Linked DNA regions of Homo sapiens. The protein of the gene in region 4 purifies or fractionates together with the protein of the main gene of each other region. This does not show direct contact. Each region holds a gene or a part of one and is shown on either strand. Other genes may lie near its edges.

What was found.
Region 1: the proteins of PLEKHG4B (region 4) and ARHGAP18 purify together in Homo sapiens (affinity purification with western blotting; one study listed by BioGRID and IntAct). This does not show direct contact.
Region 2: the proteins of PLEKHG4B (region 4) and DSG1 purify together in Homo sapiens (affinity purification with mass spectrometry, with the first as the bait; one large-scale study listed by BioGRID). This does not show direct contact.
Region 3: the proteins of PLEKHG4B (region 4) and CAMSAP3 purify together in Homo sapiens (affinity purification with mass spectrometry, with the first as the bait; one large-scale study listed by BioGRID). This does not show direct contact.

What each region holds. Positions count from the first base shown.
Region 1 is NC_000006.12:129,707,378-129,711,463, reverse strand, and holds the start of ARHGAP18 (rho GTPase-activating protein 18), read left to right. Parts: upstream 1-1,286; 5' UTR 1,287-1,327; coding exon 1,328-1,440; intron 1,441-4,086. UniProt on the Homo sapiens protein: Rho GTPase activating protein that suppresses F-actin polymerization by inhibiting Rho. Rho GTPase activating proteins act by converting Rho-type GTPases to an inactive GDP-bound state.
Region 2 is NC_000018.10:31,349,160-31,352,659, forward strand, and holds part of DSG1 (desmoglein-1 preproprotein), read left to right. Parts: intron 1-3,500. UniProt on the Homo sapiens protein: Component of intercellular desmosome junctions. Involved in the interaction of plaque proteins and intermediate filaments mediating cell-cell adhesion.
Region 3 is NC_000019.10:7,602,363-7,605,862, forward strand, and holds part of CAMSAP3 (calmodulin-regulated spectrin-associated protein 3), read left to right. Parts: intron 1-2,863; coding exon 2,864-3,117; intron 3,118-3,500. UniProt on the Homo sapiens protein: Key microtubule-organizing protein that specifically binds the minus-end of non-centrosomal microtubules and regulates their dynamics and organization.
Region 4 is NC_000005.10:158,168-161,667, reverse strand, and holds part of PLEKHG4B (pleckstrin homology domain-containing family G member 4B), read right to left. Parts: intron 1-3,500. UniProt on the Homo sapiens protein: Guanine nucleotide exchange factor (GEF) which specifically activates small GTPase CDC42 by exchanging bound GDP for free GTP.

The sequences.
Region 1 (4,086 bases), on a different chromosome or scaffold from region 4:
TTGAGCCCAGGAGTTCAAGACCAGCCTGGGCAACACAGTGAGACCCTCCCTCTCCACAAAGCATAAAAAAATTAGCTGGGCGTGGTAGTGCATGCCTGTGGTCTTAGCTATTGGGGAGGCTGAGGCTGGAGGATTTCTTGAGCCTGGGAGGTTGAGGCTGCAGTGAGTTACAATCACCACTGTACTCCAGCCTGGGTGACAGAGTGAGACCCTGATTCAAAAACAAACCAAAAAAGTGATTTTTTTTTTTGGAGGGGAGATGGGGAGAAAGAACAGAGCTGTCTTTTGTGTTTATGATAATTTTGATCTTGTTTCTTAATCTGCAAAACAAAGAAGAGCATACTGGTGAAAAATAAAAGGAATGTAGCCTAGAATTCTGTTCAAATCCAGCTTCTGGCACTAGCAACTGTGTTATCTTAGTGAAGTTACTTAACTCGTCCCTCAGCCTTACTTTCCTTGTGTTATGTATAACACAGATGATAGTGATACCTATCTTGTACGGTGTGTGTGTGTGTGTGAGAGAGAGAGAATTGAATGGAATGAGATAATACATGTGAAACCCCCGTCCATGAGAGCTTGGCATATAGTAGGTGCTCAACAAATGGCAGGGACTTCTCTTGTTCTCAGCAATAACACTTAACAGAGCATTGGTAGGTCTATCCCTTTTTGGTGCTGAAAAATATTTTGCTAAAACAAGACGTATATTTGAGATTGGCTTTATGTGAAAGACGACGACATTCCAGGACACACAATTTTTATGAGGGCATTTTTAACCGGACACAAGGATCAAGCCTTTCTCGTCGTCTGGATTGCAGAGTTTTGCCGCGGGTTCGTTGTTTTTTACTATGGCTAATTTTAACGCTGAACATGAAGGGGTTAAGAAATGCCTTTACTCATGTTACATTAAGTAGCAGAAATTATAAGATAGAGGAATTGGGGAGGGAAAAAAAAAAGCCTTGGCAGCAACTCATGGTTTCCTAAGTAAGACGGCTTGTAGTTACAGTGATGAGTTGAATATACGTTCTGGCAGTTTAATCTGATCAGACTAACTTGGGGGTGGGTGCAACCCGTCGCTTCCACCCTTCGCCTCCTTTAACCAAAGCCGCCCAGAGTGCAATTGTCCAGAGTTGAAACCATGCTGTGAGTTGCAGCTTCTAATTGGAGAGGCAGGAAGCCCTTCCCTGGACAGACCCCGCCCCTCCCCGTGTGAATCGCCAGCCTGCGGGGAGGAGCTGGCCAATGCTAATGAGCGAGTTGCCAGGCGAGACAGGAACTTCTTTCCCCTTCTCTGTGTCAGGATCGCAGAAAGTATGTCCCTTCTCTCACCATGAGCTGGCTCTCCAGTTCCCAGGGAGTGGTACTAACAGCCTACCACCCCAGCGGCAAGGACCAGACCGTCGGGAACAGCCATGCAAAGGCAGGGGAGGAAGCCACCTCGAGGTAAGCCTTCGGAAGCTGAAAACAAAACAAAACCCTCTTACCTGCTCCAGGAAGAAAGTGACAGGGAAGTTGGCGTGGGGAGAAGGGAATTCCATCTGCACGTCGAGCCTGAGCTCGTGCAGCAGCAGTAGCAACGTTTGGCGTGATTTTTATGTACTTTTCATCTCACCTAGTCCAAGTCTGAAATAACCCATATGATTACTGGTGAAGACAGAGAAGAAGGAACTGGGGAGAGGGCTATATGGGCTGTCAGACTAGCTATTTAGCAGGTGCATTTGCACATGCTGAAAGATCAAATAGGTCTATCTGAAACACTTCCTTTCCTATGAAATGGAATTCTTGAATGGGCTCAAGGCACTGCCACTGGAACTGTTCGCTGGGAAAGTCTGCCAAAAAGCAGGGAGGCTGTTCACTGTACTGTACAAGCTGTTGTTGTTAGAGTGTTTTTTTTCCCCCCTCTCTTTGCTGAAAGCAAACCTCTTAGGCAAAAAGCCCAAGACACTGGCCTGTGGCAATATGTTTCACATTCTTTTGTGTATGTGGATTTTTTTTCCCCCAGGCTTTCAAAAAGGAGTTTTTGTCAGGAGATAGCACTCTGCTGCTGGAGTGAAATGTGGTTAATGTTAAATCACTTTATAGGCAGAGAGGGCAAATGTTCTATAGACCACTGAGGCGCAAAGGGTACCTTTCTCCCTATCTGTGTACTTTGTTCCATTTTCCAAGGGCTTTTTTTTTTCTTTCTCTCCTTAATGACCTTCTCACTAGCTGAACATTTTTACCTCCATCAAGATATAAATAGTAAATATTGGCCTAGAAGATTGCAAGAAGCAAATACTAACCTAATAGCCTAGAACACTAAATTAGTTATCGGTAAGCACATTTCCTCCTCAATGCTTAATGTGATAATAAAACCTTCTTTGTTCTTATGTGACTTATGCCTGTGCCTTAAGCTGAAATAATGCTGCCTTTCATTTGTTTTAAAATCTCCAAATATGAGGGAGGGAGAAAAATCAAAGGAATGGCTGTAATACTCAGTGTTAGACTCCCAGCTGACGGGAACTGTTTCTCACATAGCATCCACAGTATGTATTTCATTGAATGAATTCATTTCCAAAGATAAAAAAGATTTGGTGCTTGTGCCTTAGCTGTGTTACCATTTCATTTTCCATCATTTTAAATGACTTAATGTTAAATCATTAAATCAAGAGATCTTGAAGTGTTTTCATCCATTTTTCTGTAATGTATTAGTAATCATTAAGCAGTAAAGCAGCCTGCAACACCAACCCCATACCCAGCCATAACTTGGATTCCACATGTCAGTCAAAATTGCCAAAATTATACAAGCTCAGGACATTCTCCGACTTTAGGCTGAATGGCCTGAGGACCTGAGCTGAATCTTGGATCTTGATTGTGAGAATGGAAAGGACCTTAAGGACTGAGTCCTAACCTCTCATTTTCACGTAGGACTCAAACCCCAGGGATTAGTTAAGTTTTTGGAAGGTCTGGAGTTCTAGGCCTTTGTCTGGGGCTGCATCTCCAGTTCTGGAGACTCATTATTCTGTGTTTGCAGTGTGGGTGGCCCATACTTGAGTGGGTTGAGAGAATAAGAGAGGATCAGATCATTCTCTGCCTAGGCTGAAGCAGAACCAAGAGGCACTAAGGTGGCAGGGTGGGCAGCTGCCCACACGGCAAGTGCCCTGTGTGGGGCCACAGCTCCAGGTGAGCTCCTTTGCTGGCTGTCACGTAGCCTGCCCATACCAGACCCAACTTCCCACCACTGAATTAGTTCTAGGGATCGTTCCTGATATTGACCGGAGAAGATGGGAGCCTGGTTTGAGGGCAGGGAGGAAGGAGGGAGTAGGGCTAGTTTTCAATGGCTTTTACCCTTAAGGGCTAACGAATCAGATAAACTTGTTGTTGTTTTGGGAGATACCCTGTTTAGCCTGAAAGGATTGAGATACTGTAATTGCTATGGGGGAGGGGATGGATAGAAGGAAGGAGGATTTGAAGGTGGGATGGGGTCCTCGGTGACCACCTAAGAATGGTGATAGTGGTTTCGGGGCGGTGAACTGGACTTTGGCTTTGGCTTTGGCTGGGTTGGTCAGGTGTTGTTTTAAGCCCTGGGAAGCTGCTCCAAGGTGCAAGGTTGATGGTTGATGCCTATTTAAAGAAGTTCTCCAAAAAGTAAAAACAAAACAAAACTCTTAAAAAGGCTACATTAGGCTGGGTGTGATGGCTCACACCTGTCATCTCAGCACTTTGGGAAGCTGAGGTGGGTGGATTGCTTGAGCTCAGGAGTTAGAGACCAGCCTGGGCAAAAAAAAGACCCCCGCCCCCACAGCTCTACCAAAAATACAAAAAAAAAAAAAAAAACAAGAAACCACAAACAAACTAGAAATGGTAGTGCATGCCCGTGGTCCCAGCTACTCAGGAGGCTGAAGTGTGAGGATCACTTGAGGCTGGTGGAGCAGAGATTGCAGTGAGCTGAGATCACGCCACTGCACTCCAGCCTGGGTGAGGGAGTGAGACCCTGTCTCAAAAAATAAATAAATAAATAAAAAATAAAAGCTAAATTAGATTCTGCATTTCCTCCTACCCATTTAAAAATTATAGAAGATAGCACGGAAGTATAACTTTTCTTATCAC
Region 2 (3,500 bases), on a different chromosome or scaffold from region 4:
ATCCAGTTTCACCTTTCTACATATGGCTAGCCAGTTTTCCCAGCACCATTTATTAAATAGGGAATCCTTTCCCCATTGCTTGTTTTTCTCAGGTTTGTCAAAGATCAGATAGTTGTAGATATGCGGTGTTATTTCTGAGGGCTCTGTTCTGTTCCATTGATCTATATCTCTGTTTTGGTACCAGTACCATGCTGTTTTGGTTACTGTAGCCTTATAGTATAGTTTGAAGTCAGGTAGTGTGATGCCTCCAGCTTTGTTCTTTTGGCTTAGGATTGACGTGGCGATGCGGGCTCCTTTTTTGGTTCCATATGAACTTTAAAGTAGTTTTTTCCAATTCTGTGAAGAAAGTCATTGGTAGCTTGATGGGGATGGCATTGAATCTGTAAATTACCTTGGGCAGTATGGCCATTTTCACGATATTGATTCTTCCTACCCATGAGCATGGAATGTTCTTCCATTTGTTTGTGTCCTCTTTTATTTCCTTGAGCAGTGGTTTGTAGTTCTCCTTGAAGAGGTCCTTCACATCCCTTGTAAGTTGGATTCCTAGGTATTTTATTCTCTTTGAAGCAATTGTGAATGGGAGTTCACTCATGATTTGTCTCTCTGTTTGTCTGTTGTTGGTGTATAAGAATGCTTGTGATTTTTATACATTGATTTTGTATCCTGAGACTTTGCTGAAGTTGCTTATCAGCTTAAGGAGATTTTGGGCTGAGACAATGGGGTTTTCTAGATATACAATCATGTCGTCTGCAAACAGGGACAATTTGACTTCCTCTTTTCCTAATTGAATACCCTTTATTTCCTTCTCCTGCCTAATTGCCCTGGCCAGAACTTCCAACACTATGTTGAATAGGAGTGGTGAGAGAGGGCATCCCTGTCTTGTGCCAGTTTTCAAAGGGAATGCTTCCAGTTTTTGCCCATTCAGTATGATACTGGCTGTGGGTTTGTCATAGATAGCTCTTATTATTTTGAAATACGTCCCATCAATACCTAATTTATTGAGAGTTTTTAGCATGAAGGGTTGTTGAATTTTGTCAAAGGCTTTTTCTGCATCTATTGAGATAATCATGTGGTTTTTGTCTTTGGCTCTATTTATATGCTGGATTACATTTATTGATTTGCGTATATTGAACCAGCCTTGCATCCCAGGGATGAAGCCCACTTGATCATGGTGGATAAGCTTTTTGATGTGCTGCTGGATTCGTTTTGCCAGTATTTTATTGAGGATTTTTGCATCAATGTTCATCAAGGATATTGGTCTAAAATTCTCTTTTTTTGTTGTGTCTCTGCCTGGCTTTGGTATCAGAATGATGCTGGCCTCATAAAATGAGTTAGGGAGGATTCTCTCTTTTTCTATTGATTGGAATAGTTTCAGAAGGAATGGTACCAGTTCCTCCTTGTACCTCTGGTAGAATTCGGCTGTGAATCCATCTGGTCCTGGACTCTTTTTGATTGGTAAGCTATTGATTATTGCCACAATTTCAGCTCCTGTTATTGGTCTATTCAGAGATTCAACTTCTACCTGGTTTAGTCTTGGGAGAGTGTATGTGTCCAAGAATTTATCCATTTCTTCTAGATTTTCTAGTTTATTTGCGTAGAGGTGTTTGTAGTATTCTCTGATGGTAGTTTGTATTTCTGTGGGATCAGTGGTGATATCCCCTTTATCATTTTTTATTGCATCTATTTGATTCTTCTCTCTTTTTTTCTTTATTAGTCTTGCTAGCAGTCTATCAATTTTGTTGACCCTTTCAAAAAACCAGTTCCTGGATTCATTAATTTTTTGAAGGGTTTTTTGTGTCTCTATTTCCTTCAGTTCTGCTCTGATCTTAGTTATTTCTTGCCTTCTGCTAGCTTTTGAATGTGTTTGCTCTTGCTTTTCTAGTTCTTTTAATTGTGATGTTAGGGTGTCAATTTGGGATCTTTCCTGCTTTCTCTTGTGGGCATTTAGTGCTATAAATTTCCCTCTACACACTGCTTTGAATGCGTCCCAGAGATTCTGGTATGTTGTGTCTTTGTTCTCGTTGGTTTCAAAGAACATCTTTATTTCTGCCTTCATTTCGTTATGTACCCAGTAGTCATTCAGGAGCAGGTTGTTCAGTTTCCATGTAGTTGAGCGGTTTTAAGTGAGATTCTTAATCCTGAGTTCTAGTTTGATTGCACTGTGGTCTGAGAGATAGTTTGTTATAATTTCCGTTCTTTTACATTTGCTGAGGAGAGCTTTACTTCCCAGTATGTGGTCAATTTTGGAATAGGTGTGGTGTGGTGCTGAAAAAAATGTATATTCTGTTGATTTGGGGTGGAGAGTTCTGTAGATGTCTATTAGGTCCGCCTGGTGCAGAGCTGAGTTCAATTCCTGGGTATCCTTGTTGACTTTCTGTCTCGTTGATCTGTCTAATGTTGACAGTGGGGTGTTAAAGTCTCCCATTATTAATGTGTGGGAGTCTAAGTCTCTTTGTAGGTCACTCAGGATTTGCTTTATGAATCTTGGTGCTCCTGTATTGGGTGCATATATATTTAGGATAGTTAGCTCTTCTTGTTGAATTGATCCCTTTACCATTATGTAATGGCCTTCTTTGTCTCTTTTGATCTTTGTTGGTTTAAAGTCTGTTTTATCAGAGACTAGGATTGCAACCCCTGCCTTTTTTTGTTTTCCATTGGCTGGGTAGATCTTCCTCCACCCTTTTATTTTGAGCCTATGTGTGTCTCTGCACGTGAGATGGGTTTCCTGAATACAGCACACTGATGGGTCTTGACTCTTTATCCAATTTGCCAGTCTGTGTCTTTTAATTGGAGCATTTAGTCCATTTACATTTAAAGTTAATATTGCTATGTGTGAATTTGATCCTGTCATGATGATGTTAGCTGGTTATTTTGCTCGTTAGTTGATGCAGTTTCTTCCTAGTCTCGATGGTCTTTACATTTTGGCATGATTTTGCAGCAGCTGGTACCGGTTGTTCCTTTCCATGTTTAGTGCTTCCTTCAGGAGCTCTTGTAAGGCAGGCCTGGTGGTGACAAAATCTCTCAGCATTTGCTTGTCTGTAAAGGATTTTATTTCTCCTTCACTTATGAAGCTTAGTTTGGCTGGATATGAAATTCTGGGTTGAAAATTCTTTCCTTTAAGAATGTTGAATATTGGCCCCCACTCTCTTCTGGCTTGTAGGGTTTCTGCTGAGAGATCTGCTGTTAGTCTGATGGGCTTCCCTTTGAGGGTAACCCGACCTTTCTCTCTGGCTGCCCTTAACATTTTTTCCTTCATTTCAACTTTGGTGAATCTGACAATTATGTGTCTTGGAGTTGCTCTTCTCGAGGAGTATCTTTGTGGCATTCTCTGTATTTTCTGAATCTGAACGTTGGCCTGCCTTGCTAGATTGGGGAAGTTCTCCTGGATAATATCCTACAGAGTGTTTTCCAACTTGGTTCCATTCTCCCCATCACTTTTAGGTACACCAATCAGACGTAGATTTGGTCTTTTCACATAGTCCCATATTTCTTGGAGGCTT
Region 3 (3,500 bases), on a different chromosome or scaffold from region 4:
AGCCCTAGCTTAAGGTTTTGGTGTTTTTTGTTTCTTGTTTTTCATCTTAAAGGCCCTGAAAAGTCCTGTAGGAAAGAAACACGTGTGATTTTGCTGGTGGGAGCAAGACGTGCCCAAGGCCGGGGCTGGGGAGGTAGAGAGGAGGGTTTGGATTTGGGAGATATCAGGAAGTTGAAAGCCAAGGACGCATTAAATGTGGGGTGAGGGCGTAAAGAAAGGGAGGGAGGGTGATTTCTCACTGCCTTGGGGGCAGGGAGGAGGGGAGGTGTGGGTGAGATGTTGAGAATTGTGGGAGATGCCCAGGGTGCAGTGGGGCCCGTGGCAGCCGCTGTTGCAGTCTTCAGGTGGCCCTGGAAGCCGTCACGGGGTAGGGTGGCCTGGGGTGGGGGTGGGGCATGTCCATTTACAAGGAGACGCCTGTGGGAGGAAGGTTTCTGGAAGAAGGAGGCACTGGGCACAGAGCCCAGGCGAGATACGGGCCCACAGATATGCTTTGGAGGTCCCTGCTGGCCTTGGGGAGACCGGAAGCCATGAGGGCAGCATCGAGCTCAGGGAAATTGAGGGAGAGGTGGAGGGGGGCTGGGAGGGCAGGGAGGAAGTGAGCCTGAAATACCTCTTCTTTCAAGGAGCCAAGATGAGAGGGGCAAAAAGAAGGTCCAAGTCTACATGCGGGTGGCGCGTTAAGTGGGACGGTCCAGTGTGGTTTTAGAAGGTGGGAAAGGAGCCAGGACAGGGAGGGACAGAAGGCAGCCAAGAGTGCCTGGGTCCTCACAGGTGGAGAAGTCCCGTTCAAATATGTTCTGAAGCACTAGAACCCCTTACCCTGTTCTTTCTTTTCTTTTTTTTTCTTTCTTTCTTTTTTTTTTTTTTAAGACAGAGGCTTGCTCTATCACCCAGGCTGGAGTGCAGTGGCGCAATCTCAGCTGGCTGCAACCTCTGCCTCCCAGATTTAAGCGATTCTCCGGCCTCGGCTTCCCGAGTAGCTGGGATTATAGGCGTGTGCCACCATGCCCAGCTCATTTTTGTATTTTTAGTAGAGATGGGGTTTCACCATGTTGACAAGGCTGGTCTTGAACTCCTGACCTTAAAAGATCTGCCTACCTTGTTTTCCCAAAGTGCTGGGATTACAGGCATGAGTCACTGCACCCGGCCCCCACCCCGTTCTTTCAAACACACACACAGAACCCCAATATACAAAACAAGTCTGGGCACAGTGGCTTACCCCTATAATCCCAGCACTTTGGGAAGCCAAGGCAGGTGGATCACTTGAGGCCAGGAAATTCGAAACCAGCCTGAGCAACATGGTGAGGCTTCCATCTTTATAAAAAAATTTAAAAATTGGCTGGGTGTGGTGGCACGTGCCTGCGGTCCCAGCTACTCAGGAGGCTGAGGCAGGGAGGATCCCTTGAGCCCAGAGTTCAGGTTGCAGTGAGCCATGATCGTGCCACTGCACTCCAGCAAAAACTCAAACAAACAGAGAAGGCTGTGCAGGCTGGGCGTGGTGGCTCACGCCTGTAATCCCAGCACTTTGGGAGGCCAAGGTGAGCAGATCGCTTGAGGTCAGGAGTTCAAGACCAGCCTGGCCAAAATGGTGATAACCCTGTTTCTACAACATACAAAAATTAGCCGGGTATGGCAGCATCGCACCTGTAATCCCAGCTACTTGGGAGTCTGAGGCAGGAGAATCATTCGAGCCCGGGAGGCAGAGGTTGCAGTGAGCCAAGATTGCACCACTGCCCTCCAGCCTGGGCGACAGAGAGACTCTTATCTCCAAAAAACCGCAAAAGCTGTGCAGATTAGAACAAGAGCTGGACAGATTCCCTGCTGTTGATTTCAGTCACCTCTTCCCCGACCCCTGCCAAGCCTTCCTGGCCTTCTCCTCTCCACTCTTGGTCCTACGTGGATTTCTGCCCCCAGCCCACTGTCCACCTGGGGCTTCCTCACGCCTCTTCCCATTGTCCTATTTAGGGACCTCAGGCTGTCTCTATGATGTGACCTCACCATCTCTCTAAGCCCCAGCCTTTCACATAATCTGCCTCAAGGATGTCCTCAAAGCCCCTCACATTCAATTTCACCCCTTCACCTCCCATTCCTCCTGCACCCAAGCTCAGTCATTACCCCTCTCTTCCCTCTTCCCCCTCAGACCCAGCAAGGTCCTGGCTACCTCCCTCTCTGTCCCTTGCCTCCTCCCTTCAATCACCAGGTTTACATCACTCAACTCCCTCGATGTGCCTGTGGTGTGCCCACCTCCCCTGCTCGCCTGTGTGCCCCCCACTCATCCCCCCCTGCCTGCAAGCTAAGAGAGGGCGTCCAGTTTGCTGGGTCTAACCCCAGTCCTGGTGTTGAAGAGTTATTTGGCCTGGGGCAAGGGACTTTCCTTCTCTGTGCCTCAGTTTCCTCCTCTGTAACATGGGGGTTGCCAATTGGGCCCTGGCTGCCTCCTAGCGTTGATGTAAGGCTCAGTGAGTCTACATTGGCAAGAGCAGGAAGGCTCTTAGGATTGCCGATGTTATTGTCTTTCCTGGGACCTACAAGAGCCAGTCCAGCTGGCCTGGTATTGGGGGTAGCCTCCCCTCCTTTCCACTCTAAGTGCCCATCAGCTCCCTGAGGCACCGTGTTCTCTCCCACCTGCTGGGCTTTGCATCTGCAGGCCCCTCTGCCTACAACGCCATCACCCCTTCCTCCAGCAAACTCCTGCACATCTGCACTCTCAGCCCAGATCCCCTTTCTCCTTTCCCAATGCCATCCTCCCTGGTCCAGACACACTCTTAATCCGGGCCATGTGGTGTGTGTGTGTGTGTGTGTGTGTGTGTGTTGTATCTGGTGACCCTGACCCCCGTGTTTCCCCTCTATGCCCCCACAGAGCACGTGCCCCCGGAGCTGTGGGAGCCCTTCTATACCGACCAGTACGCGCAGGAGCATGTGAAGCCCCCGGTGACACGGCTGCTGCTCTCAGCCGAGCTCTACTGCAGAGCCTGGCGCCAGGCACTGCCACAGCTTGAAACACCCCCCAACCCCTCTGCACTGCTGGCCCTGCTGGCGCGGAGGGGCACAGTGCCTGCTTTGCCCGAGCGCCCGGTGCGCGAGGCCGACCTGAGGCACCAGCCCATTCTCATGGTAGGCCCCGCCACTGCCTGTTAGACCACGCCTACCATGCTCAGCTCCTCCCCTCAAGCTCCTCCCGCCAGTCCTGGCTCCTCCCAAGTTCCCTCTATCAGTCTTGGCTCCTTTCAAGCTTTGTCGATTAAGCCTAGCTCCTCCCATCAGGCTTGGCTCCTCCCCCAGGTTCCTCCCACCAGGCCTGGCTCCTCCCCTCAAGCGCTATTAAGCCTAGTTCCTCCCACGAGGTCTGGCTCCTCCCCTCAAGCGCTATCCATTAAGCCTAGCTCCTATCAGTCTTGGCTCCTTCCCTTAAGCTATGTCCATCAAACCTAGCTCCTCCTATCATCAGTCTTGGCTCTGTCCCTTAAGCTCTGTCCATCAAACCTAGCTCCTCCCAC
Region 4 (3,500 bases):
CTGCCTGCTGCTGCCTCTCATTCTCGAGAGCAGGCACCAAAGGACCGAGGCATTTCTCTAGTTCTTTTCCAAACTATGATTTGATCTACACAGGGGAAGAACATTTTATATTTAAACATGCGAAGAAGTCACACTCTAGGATTTAGCAGGACCGAGGGAGGGATGCGTCTTGGTCATGTCCTGAGTACACGCTGCACAGGGCTGACAGCCTGGCTGCGTAACCACCCGTGAATGAACACGACTGATGAGAGGTGGCACGGGCCTCTGAGGCTCAAGCTCCAAACTATTTTCATTGTTTGGAAAAGGACATTAAAATCATTGAACAATAGATCCAGGACTTTCCATTTTGAAACTGGTTAATATGGTAAGCATATTCCAGAAATATTCTTCAGGCCAGTGGCTGCTTGGCCCCTTGAGGCTGCCTGGGAAAGATGGGGGAGCCCCTGGCTGAGCCCTGCTGGACGGAGCGCCTGTGGCTACGCGCCCTGGTGACAAGACCAAGGTTCTTATTTTGGAGGCATTTACTGCTGGATTCAGTGGAAATGTCAGAGGTAAGCCCTTCATGTTGTCGTTAAACAGCAACACCAGGGGCGACTAGGGGTCAGATGCCCAGAGATGAGAGGCCTGTTGTGAAGAAGAGAACAGCTGCCTGGATCCATGACCATCAGAAGGTACCGAATGACCCCAGACATGCAGCAGAGGAGAGACAGACCAGCACATACGCTGTCTGTAAACAGAGCCAGAGTCAAGAAGAAAATCACAGCATCTTGATTCTTAGGAGCACGGGCAGAGTCTTGCAACTGCCAGGCAAGGGGCAGGTGCGGCTTCGGCAGAGCAGAGTGGGGGTGGCGCAGAGCTGGAGCCTGGCCTCCAACTTTGTGGAAAAATCGGCTGTCATTGGTTTCAAGATTTAAATACAAAAATTCAAGTCATAAAGGTTCTATGATGAAATACACTAATAATTCTATAACTTAAGGTAGAAAGGGCTGTTTAAAAGATAAGCAAAGCTAGAGGGCAAATGACAAACTAGGAAAACAAGCAGAACATGAAGGATCCATATAACATAGACAGAAGTGATGATCAACCCTAGAAAAACTGTCTAAAGCATGAACAAGTAATTCACTACAGAAATAAAAATAATAAACGTGTGAAGAGAATGTCCAGCTGTCGCATAGAAAATCTGAGGGCACACTGTTTAGGGGCTCCATTTCCCCACGGGGCAGCCGGCGGGAGGCAGGTGCGGCTGGAGTGCCACGGCTTATGCGTGGAAACCTCCAAAAACAAATGGTCTGACCGCAGCCATCCGAGCCTAGGAATGTATCCAGAGTCAACACCCACAGGCTGTGAAGGAAGCAGAGACACAGAGATGTTCAACATGGGGAGTTTCTAACAGCAGAGAGGGGAGGAGCCCAGGGCCTTCAGTGTGGGAGCCGTGTGAACATGGCTCGGGGACTGAGCTTGCAGCGCATGCCCACACACAGGGTGCCGAGGCCGCCACATGCGGCATCCCGTGTGTAAAAATCTATTTGTTTCTAATTTTCCCACAGTGTGCATGCACTTTTTAGGTTAAATATATAGAGACAGACGTGCACCTATACATAGCAGGATCGCCTGTCCGGTCACAACGTGGAGTTTCTGGGTGAAGACTGCAGAGTGAGACGTGTCCTCTTGAGACACCACTAAAGCCCTGCAAGCATCTTCCAAGGCGTAACACTCAGCACGGTGGGCAGAGAGCAGCCAGGGCACAAACCTGGAGGCCGGGAAGGAAGCGGGAGTGGCAGGGCCTGAGGAGAGCAGAGGCCAAGTCCCGAGACTCCACAGGACAGGGTGAGGGAGTGTCGGAGGGAAGGAGCTGGGCACCCTGCTCCACAGGGCCCAGGGTCTGTTCCCTGGCAGGTGAACACTGAGCTACGGCCAGGCTCTCCTTTCAGGCCGGGATTAGAGGAAAAGAATCAGACCGCCAGGGAGAAAATGCTAAAGATGCGTGGGCCACAGGCTTCCTAGCCAGGGGTCGCCAGGAAAGCCTCTGGCGCCAGAACAAACCCACAGAAGCCACAGACTGTGCAGACTCATCATGATTAGTATGGAGAGGGGACTGTTCAGAAAATAAGCCCATGGAGTTAAAAAGCAAGAGCAGAAACAAAAAACTCAATAATAGAGTTAGAGGGTAAAGCTGAGAAAAATCTACCTTACAAGGACAGCACACAGCCAGGGGTGGGGAAAATTAAGGCAACAGGACAGAAAACTCCAGAACCAGATGGAAGTGTGGAGCTGTGGGAAATGCGAGCGCCACGAAGGATGTCACAGAATTCCCAGAACAGAGGGGCGCAGTGCAGACACAAAGAGCACACCTGCCCTCGGTGCACCTGGGCGACCCTCAGGCACACCTGCCCTCAGTGCACCTGGGCGACCCTCAGGCACACCTGCCCTCAGTGCACCTGGGCGACCCTCAGGCACACCTGGGCCACCCTCAGGCACACCTGCTCTCAGTGCACCTGGGTGACCCTCGGGCACACCTGCCCTCAGCGCACCTGGGCAACCCTCAGATTCCAGAGCCCCGAGGACGACAGGAAAGTCTGTGGCTTCCACCGAGAAGCAGGGCACAGGCAGAAGGCTGGGAGTGGGATGGAAGCTAAGCACAGGCGCAGGGCCTTCCAGCTGGCGAAGGGAAACTAAAGTGACTGCTGGCCATGAAGGTGGAGTAGAGATGCTTTTAGATACCACGGCCTCAAAAATGCTCACCCCAAGATCCCTTTCTCTGGGAAGTCCTGGAAGTTATTCTGCATAAAACGCCAAAGTAAATGAAAAAAGAGGAAGACTTGGATACAGGAAATAGGAGACCACAGGATGGGGCAGAGTGGGGAGGGAGATGGAGGAGACCCCAGGAAGAGCAGAGGGAGGAGGGGAGATGGGGGAGACACCCCAGGAAGGAGTAGAACGAGGAAGGGAAGACGAAGGAGACCCCCCAGGACAGGCAGAGGGAGGAAGGGGAGATGGGGGAGATCCCCCAGGATGGGCAGAGGGAGGAGGGGAGATGGGGGAGACCCCCCCAAGGACGGAGTAGAACGAGGAGGGGAAGATGAAGGAGACTCCCAGGACGGGCAGAGGGAGGAGGGGGAGATGGGGGAGACCCCCTGGGATGGGCAGAGGGAGGAGGGGAGATAGGGGAGACCCCCAGAATAGGCAGTGGGAGGAGAGATGGGGGAGACTCCCAGGACGGGCAGAGGGAGGAGAGGAGAAGGAGGAGACCCCCAGGATGGGCAGAGAGAGGAGAGGAGATGGAGGAGACCCCCAGGATGGGCAGAGGGAGGACAGGAGATGGAGGAGACCCCCAGGATGGGCAGAGGGAGGAGAGGAGATGGAGGAGACCCCCAGGATGGGCAGAGGGAGGAGAGGAGATGGAGGAGACCCCCAGGATGGGCAGGGGGAGGAGGGGAAGATGGGGGAGACCCCCAGGATGGGCAGGGGGAGGAGGGGAGATGGAGCCAGGATAGAGCAGA